Regions from separate parts of the Homo sapiens genome. Here all the other regions are linked to region 2. Evidence: fine-mapped expression QTL. A gene starts in region 2. Each other region holds a variant in brackets. All regions are shown on one strand. Distances are between the middles of the regions. Region 1 overlaps STARD8 (StAR related lipid transfer domain containing 8). Region 2 holds the start of STARD8 (StAR related lipid transfer domain containing 8). Region 3 overlaps STARD8 (StAR related lipid transfer domain containing 8).

Evidence for each region. PIP is the estimated chance that this variant, and not a neighbour inherited with it, causes the effect.
Region 1: its variant is fine-mapped to the expression of STARD8 in whole blood (TOPMed, PIP above 0.99). The same link has a PIP of 0.9 or more in blood mononuclear cells.
Region 3: its variant is fine-mapped to the expression of STARD8 in fibroblasts (GTEx, PIP above 0.99). The same link has a PIP of 0.9 or more in T cells, blood mononuclear cells, monocytes and whole blood.

Annotation. Positions count from the first base shown.
Region 1 is chrX:68,682,962-68,685,719 of GRCh38, reverse strand. All of the region lies in intron 2 of STARD8 (StAR related lipid transfer domain containing 8), which reads right to left. Among named protein-coding and RNA genes, the nearest start is that of STARD8, 37 kb to the right of the region's middle. The variant G/A (reference allele first, on the strand shown) is at 1,207.
Region 2 is chrX:68,646,245-68,649,002 of GRCh38, reverse strand. It overlaps STARD8 (StAR related lipid transfer domain containing 8), which reads right to left and starts at 1,337. Exons shown (of 15, transcript NM_001142503.3): 1 at 1,076-1,337. The coding sequence starts at 1,120.
Region 3 is chrX:68,698,367-68,701,124 of GRCh38, reverse strand. The region is part of intron 2 of STARD8 (StAR related lipid transfer domain containing 8); the gene reads right to left. Among named protein-coding and RNA genes, the nearest start is that of STARD8, 52 kb to the right of the region's middle. The variant C/T (reference allele first, on the strand shown) is at 1,023.

The DNA.
Region 1 (2,758 bases), 37 kb before region 2:
AGGCCCAAGAATGCAAATGACTTGGCCATCATCTAGGCCGGGGCAGTTATCTCTATGTTGCAGGACTGTTGTAAGGATCTGAAGGACTGATCATGGTGCCTGGCACGGAGTATAGACTTCATTAAGAAAGATTAGCTTTTATTTTCAAAGAGTTTAGCCCCTGGCGTGTACCACAAAAAAAGCCTGGACTAGGACTCTAAGGTACATAACCGTTTTTTCTAATACGCAATCCCCACCACCGCAAGCAAACTTGCATTACCTGACTTGGGGATGGTGGGGGGTCCTGGTTAAATTTGTTTTCAATGGAGATAAGGCCAAAAGTTACCAACAGCTCTCAGACCAGGTCATTTCCATTCTACTTCTGTTGGTGGCCAGTAAAGGGACCAACATCCTAATAGGGCCTCTGCTCTAACTGTGGCATAACCTGGGTGATTTCTCCTCTCTGAGACTCAGTTTCCTCATCTGTAAAATGAGGGTAATATTCCTATGACACGATGGGAATAATGAATGTGCTTTGTGAACGATAAAGGGGTACATGGGTGAAGGTCACAGCCCCTCCCCCCTACTGTCTCCATACCTTGTTCCTGGAATCTAGAGCTAAGCTACTCCATTTGTGAGGGATAAGCTAGAAAAAGGAAGTGCAGTTTCCAGTTGATATGTGCTTATTTGCATGATATTTGCACCCACTTTTCATGAACTCAGTGTCAGAGCTAGAAGGAAATTAGAGGTTAACATGTTGATCTTCATGCCATGCATCCCTTTTCCCCAGGGCAATGGTGGCACATAGCAGGTGTTCACAAAATATTTACTAACTGAATGAATGCATTCTTCATGTGGGGAAGAGGACTTGTCCAAGGTCACACAGTGAGTTTGTTTCAGAACCAAGGCAGATCTGACTCTGCTCCTCCTTCCACTAGGCCATTTCTACTTCATGGAATTATTTTCCTTTTCCCTTCAAATGACCATAAATCAATGGGAAGCCCGTCTCTCCCAGCACCCTCTGGCCTATCAGCAGTCCCCATTCTGGACTAGCCCAGGCAGGACAAACAGCCACTGGGATGCCCCTCTCTGGGCCCAGCTTTCTGCTGCCACCCCGTTGACTCCTGAGTTTCGAGTAGTCCCTGCACTGCGCCTCTCACAGGGGCAGCCCCCTCCCCCACGCCGCCCGCGGAAAAGGAGGCCTCAGTCAGCTTCCTCCAAGCAGAG[G/A]AGTTTCCCTTTTGCTCTCCGGTTGGGCGGGAGTGTGGGACATAGCCCCCGGCAGTGGCAGCGGCCTAGAAGGAAGGGCGGCAGCAGTCACTTCCCACCCTGCTAAGGCATCTCCCGCCCTGTCCAGTCCCACCCCTATTTCCTGAGTTCTGCTGCTTCAGCTCCAGCCAGAACAGTGATATGAAAGAGCTCCGAAGATTCACTTGAGTCACAGAGCCCTGTTGCTGGGAAGGACCTTCGAGGTTATTTATTCCCACCACCTCCCCACTCCAGGCAGGAATGCCTGCTGTTAGCAAAGAGGAGGAGAGGGGGCACCTTACTGAACCTCCACAGCTTCAAGTTTCTCCTCCAGATAATGGACATAATATGACACATAGCTGACAATGGTGCTGTGAGAGGAGATGCAAGAATGGATCTAATAAAAGCTGATGTGGATTGAGCACAAGCTATACCAGACATTGTTCTAAGTGCTTATTTAATTCTTACCACAATGCTCTGAAGTATATATATCATCATCATTACCCCAGTTTACAGTTGGAGAAACTCAGAAGCAGCAAAGGTAATCCAAATTGCTCATAAGTGGCAGTGGCAGGATTGGGACCTCGAGCCTCCATCTTCACCCATATATAACGGTGGTAATCATCCTTACCCCCAGAGAATGATTGGACCCCCTTGAGAGTTACTTGAATTCACAAGTGTTTGTTTTACTGTAACTTTTGTATTCAAGTACCCCTAAGGGCTGAGAGGGAAGAATGTGATGAAACCTTGGGGGGCTGATGATGTAAACCTGAAGTGTTGGCTCCAAGTGGGAATGTCTTTGAAGTCCAGCTTTTATCTTAAACATCCACTTGAATTTTCAGTTAACTCTAGTATGCATCCTTGTTTTCTTATTAAAATTCATCTTTTCCTTCCTTAAGCCTTTGAGGAAAATGTACACTCCAGGAAGAGGAGACATACCGGTCTAATACCTTCATATGCCTCCAGGCCATGGCCTTGTACCCCAGGGGTAGCAGGCACCTGGTTCAGTAAAAGATAGGCCCTTAGTCACTGAGAATAGCTAAGGTTTATGGAGTGTTTGTCATGTGAGCCAGCATTCTAAGCACTTTCTATATATGATTTAATCATCATATATAACTCTATGATAAGCTGAATTATTATTGCTACCATTTTCAATGGGAAAACTGTAGCATAGAGAGGTTAAATAATTTGCCCAAGGTCATACAGTTTGGACTGTCAGCTTTAGCTAGTAACCACTGTACATACTGCCTCTCAGGCCACATGGAGTTTCTCTTACCTACCTACCTCCACCACTTCCCACCAGGATGATTGATTTGATTATTGGCAGAAGCAGGCCTTATTCCAATTAGAAGATCAGCTCCTTGAGGGCAGTGACAAGGGGGCTCCCTGCTGCCCCTTTCCCTATATCGATGCTAATCCTGGGGCTGAGCCATGCACAGGGCTGGTCCAGCGTTCAGATTTGGCAACTGACTGTTTCCTGGCTGGTGGCAGTCTCTTGGGCCTAGCACCTGTTGAGCTGGTGGATACAGCACTA
Region 2 (2,758 bases):
TCCCAGCTCTGCCAGTCATATCTGAGCAACCTTGTAAATATTTCTTAACTATTCACAGTGTCTTTTCCCTATCTATAAAAGCAGGAAAACAATGGGTTGTGCTGAGGATCACTGCCACATGAATGAATTAAAAGTGCCTAGGTCTGGTACATAGTGGATACTAAATAAATATTAGTTTCTTGGTTCTTGAGAGTGGAATCATGCTTTACACACACTTGTGGGTTCGGCTGTGCTCATGTATCCCCCATGGCCAGGATATAGTAGACACTCAACAAATATTTACTGACAAACTGACTATTTAGCACAATGTCTGGCATATAGTAGGTGCCTGGTAAATATTTGTCACTTTTCTTATATTCTCTTTGAGGACAAAAGCCATGTCCTTCTTTGTCTTCTTTTAAAAAATGGAGATGGGGGTCTCCTTATGTTGCCTAAGCTGGTCTTGAACCCCTGGCCTCAAGTGATCCTCCCACCTCGGCCTCCCAGAATGCTGGGATTACAGACGTGAGCCACTGTGTCCAGCCCTTTTTTGTCTTTGTGTAGCTCCAGTGGTGCCTAGCACAGAGTATGTGCTTTTATATATATGGATAGAAATTAATAATAATAATAATAATAGATACCATTGTTTGTGTGGATGCTCCACACCAGGCATCCTGCTAGGAAGCTTACACACATTATCTCCTGGATTTGCATACATTTGCTATGTAAACAATAACACCAACCTCATCACCCCGTAAGGTTGGTGTTACTATGGTCCTCATTCTAAAGCTGAGAGGAAACTGAGGTTCAGAGAGGTTAAGTATCTTGCCTTTGTGGCAAGATCCAGGAAGCAACAGAGGCGAGTTTTATTAAAAAGAGCCAACTAGCAGACTTGTTTGTATGGGAATGCAACAGAAGGTCACAGAACTGGTTAAGTGACAAAGGTGAGACTTGAACCCAAGCCTTTCTAACTCCGAGAGCCTCAGGTAGTCTCAGAAGCCCGTCTGGTCCGTTTTCCCAGCTGGTGCGCAGTGGTCCACATCTGCCTCCTTCCCCCCTGAGCAGCGGGATGGGCTGGGGCTGGCCAGTCACTTACCTTCACCTTCCTGAAGCAAGACCAGAAAACGTCCAGCAGAGGCATGGTGGCGCGTGGGGAGCTTCTAGGGCCGGCGGGGCTGTGCCGGGCACCGGCTCCTCCCTCTCTGGGGACGAGGCTAAAAGAGGCCCGGGGCTCGGCGAGAGCCAGCCCGGTCCCTGCGCTCCATGAGCCGGCCCCGCGAGGGGAGAGGCGGAGAGCAGCGGTTGCCGGGGCTCAGCTGCCTCGACAGCGGGCGCCTCCCGCCTCCTGGAAGGCCACCGAGGGAGGGAAAAAAGGAGGGAGGGAGAGAGGCCGGCTAAGGAGGAGGGACCAGGAGGCGGGTCACTGATTCAAACTCGGCACCGTTAGCCAGTTGGCTGGAACGGGACAGCAATGCCAATTGAAATTCCCTGAACATTACAGTTCCCCGGCTCCGGGTGTCCGGCCCTCCTGCCGGCTCCCCTGCCAGCCCCGCCACCTGCATGCTGGCATTGCCTGCCTGCTTGCTTCTTGGCTGACTGACACGCCAGCTCTCCTTGGGGACCTCTCGGTAGAGCCCAGACCACACAGGGCCTGTGGAAAGAGTGCCAAGGAAAAGGGGCAAGGAAGGAGAGCCCCGGCCCCAGCAGGACCGAACAAGGTGTGAATGCAGTCCACGGAAGGGGAAAAGCTTGCAGCCTTAGAAGCCCCTCTCAGACAGGTGCCCTGGCCCTGCCTCAGTAGATTATTCTCCAGCCCTCTGAAGTGAGGACTCTTGACTCACTGTGGCATCTCGGAGAGGCCCCTTCCTCCTGGGTCTCAGTTTTCCCAGCTGTACAATGAGATGCCGGGTTAGAGGTCTCTAAGTATCAAATCTGTTTGGGGTTAGGTACAGGGCAAGTCTCAAAGAAACTCCACTCTGGACAATCACAGTTCCTCTCAGAACTCCCCTGCTGCTCCTGGGAGTCCATAGGAAGTCAGGTCTTGCCCCAAAGAGAATCTGAGCCCTCAAATGCCATTTCATCCATCCCCCTGCCCCAGGGCATAACAGCAGCTCTCTCCCAGCTCAGATAGACTGGGTGTATGCCCTTTTCTGAACATCTTCTGAAGAGATGATGGCTTCCCTCCTTTATCCAGTCCCATGCTCAGGACCCTCTAAGCCCAGAAGTTTAGCCTGAAATCTAAACTTGAACCCTCTGGATGCCCTGAAAGGAAAGAAAGTCAGCAGCAGGCAGTTCTAGAGGCTTTCTGGGCAGAAAGCCATTAAGAAGCAGTGACCCTCCCCCTCTCTCAGCCCCTCCCCAGACATCAGAAGGCAGGGTGCCATGGCTGGTAGCCAGAAGGCTCCCAGGGACCCCATGGCAAAAGGCCAGGCTTGGGTCTCTGGAGGCACATGTCATCATGAGGCCCAGAATAACTAACTCTCCCTGGCCTCACTTCTGTTTCAGAGACCCAAGCTAGTCAGGCAAACAGCCAGGTCCTGGGACCCTGGAAGGTCCTAGGTTGCTTTAAGCAAGCCTCTACCTGCCTTCGGGGACTTTCTTCATCAGTGGCTTTGTCCGGAGGTTTGTCCAGAGGCTCTGTGAGGGTCCCCCCAGCTCTGTTTACAACTTACTCTGTGACCCTCAGTTTCCTCGTTTGTACCAAGGAGGCTGCAATCACTGACCTCACCCTCTCTCTAGCTCCGACCTCAGGGGTGTCTCAGATGTGAGTTCTGTTGGG
Region 3 (2,758 bases), 52 kb before region 2:
GTGGGTGGGCATGGCCAAAGGGAGCTTTTCTGGGTAAGGTGGACTCTGAAATGACTGCAAAGTCCAGACCGAATGCCCACGAGGTGGCAGGTTTGAGAACTGCCCACCCCCAGGTCAGTGAAAAACAACCAAATGACAGGACTGCAGAAGGTACTACCAAGCAACAATAATGGCAATAATTTTATTTATATTGTTGGATTTAATATTCAACAACTCCATGAGGTGGGTACATATCTCCATTTTAGAGCTGACAAAATGAAGGCTCAGAGAAGTTAAGTAATTTGCCCAAAGTCTCCCAGCACTGTGAACATGAGAGCTTGTGTACAGCTCAGGACGTATTTTACTTCTGCTCCACTCTGACCCCTTTTCCACATTCCCCTCTCTGTTTTTCCCATTTAGAAGGCCCTGCTGGTGTGGGCACTGCTCAGGACAGATGTTTGGGGACAAGCTCTTCCCACAAGCTCACTGCCTCTGCCACAGCCTGACTTGACCTCAGCCTGGAGCAGAAAGGCTGGCTGCAGGTGCCTATCTCACACCTCAGACAGGCCAGCCTTTGGCCAGCCCAGATAAAGGACAGGAAATCCTAGGCCACGTCCCTTGGAGCTCACTCTCTCACAGGAACAGAGTTGCAGCCAGGGCAGGGGTTCCTCTGTGGTGGGGAAGCTGCCGAGTCAGCCCCGGCTGCCATGGCTGCTGGGTGTGGTTTGGGGAAAACAGGGAGGGCTGAGGGTCAGGAGACCTGGGCTCCAAATCCTCCCTCACTGGAGACTGTTCTTCCCTTCCCTGGGCCTCAGGTGGAGACCACCACAGATCATTCTGGGGAAATCATACCATCTACTTTACAGGGCTGCTCTAAGAACACAATGGAATCATGGAAGTGAAAGTGCCTTGGCAACTGAAGAAATGGGAGGACTCATAGTCATCATCATCAACTGCCAGGGGAAGGAATGGCTACGTTGGTATTTCTCACTGTCTGATTCACTCTTCTAGGCCCCACTGTGGGCATGGCTCATACTCATTTC[C/T]GGCTTCAGTACTCCCTAAAATATCCCCTTCCCTCCACCCACCCCTGACCAACTCCAAAGATAAAACCGAGTGGCAGGAAAGCAGGGTACGCTGGAAGCCCCCCACATATTACATTGTATTTAACTCAACAAGGGGAACACCTACTAACACCAGGCTTGTCCTCCACTATGGGGGCACCAATAAGAAGGCCCTACCTTCCAAGGGCTCTCCAATCGTGAGAGCTGGCTGGACCTGAACCATAAACAAATCAGTGTTGTCTAAGGTATTTGCACCCAAGATTCTGGGGGTTAGGAGTCTACCTGTTGTGGTAACCAGAAAAGGATTATGGAAAAGTCATCTGAACAAGTTCAGACTATAAATAAACTAAGGGGAGTGAGGGGTTTCCAGTGCCCCATTTCCTGCCCCCACATGTTAAGGGGGCCATAAACAGTAGCATGTAGGGAGGACAGAGGACAGTGATGAGGCTGGGAAGGGGGCTGCTCCAGGTCTGAGAAGGAGCGCAGACGCTTGAAGGTTGTTTGGCCTAGAGAAGACACAGGTGCACTTGGGTTCCATCCTCAGATCCCTGAAGGTCAGAGAGAGCAGACAGGGTCCAGGTGGTCCCAGAGGGCACACTCGGAACCCAGGGTTAGAAGCCTCAGGGAGGCACAGTTAAGTTCAACATAAGAGAAAACTTTCACACATTCCAAAGACGAAAGCAACTTGCTTGAAACATATCACATTCCCAGGTATTGAACATGAGTGAGCAGGAACTGCACAAGTACCTGTCGGGAAGCCCCAAGCTTCAGAAGGAAAGTTGGACCTAGTGCCCTCTAAAGGTCCTTCTGCCCTGAGCTCTGCCTGCATACCTACCTCTAGAGGGGTTGTGGGAGAGAGCATAAAGGTGACTGGAGCTGGCTAGGCCCTTGGCTGCTTCCCACAGGGACCTAGGATCCCAGGAGCACCTTGGGCTGGTACGACCCAGGGGGAGCAGTTCACTCATTAACTTGTGGCTGAATGGGTCAGAGAGTGGCTGGCCACTAGGGACAGACACAGGCTTGGGGAGGGGCCAGAGAGCAAACTGCAGAAATGCCCAAGCACAAGGAGAACCCAAGCTGTGGCAATTCAGGGCTTGGCCAGCTCCAACTGACCCAGCCAGCTGAGAACATTCAGTGTCTGGGCCTGATTGAATTTGAAGCCAGCTCACCATTGCCTGGTAGATAAGAAAAGGGTCTTGAGTGGGGAGGCATACTTGCATAGCTGAAAGGAAGGCTCACAGACCACTGAGTCTGCCTGCCAACTGCCCTACCCACTTTATAGTTGTGGAAATTGAGGCCCAGAGAAAGCAAAAATCACTCACCGAGAGAAAGCTATAGAGGGGGCAGAACCAGAAGCCGTTTCCCAACTCTGTAGTAGGCCCACGGGGTGGTTCCTTCTCTTCCTACTGAAACTGCAGGAAACTGCATATGGTCTGGAGCTTTCTAAATTGGGTCTGGGTCTGGGTCTGGGTCTGGGTCTGGGTCTGGGTCTGGGTCCTGGCCCGACCCTTACCAAGTGCCACTGCTTGTCCAGATACAGGCTCCCGGAGGAAGGCATCCTCCTCCACTTACAGAGGTCCTCAGCCTCTCAGCAGCAATCATGTGGTTGGCTGTCCCCATTTCCACTGCAGCCTGGTGTGGAGGGACCCACAGCTGTACTGAAAACAGACACACATTCACACAGCCTCACCCCATACCCAGCATCGGCAGACCCTTTG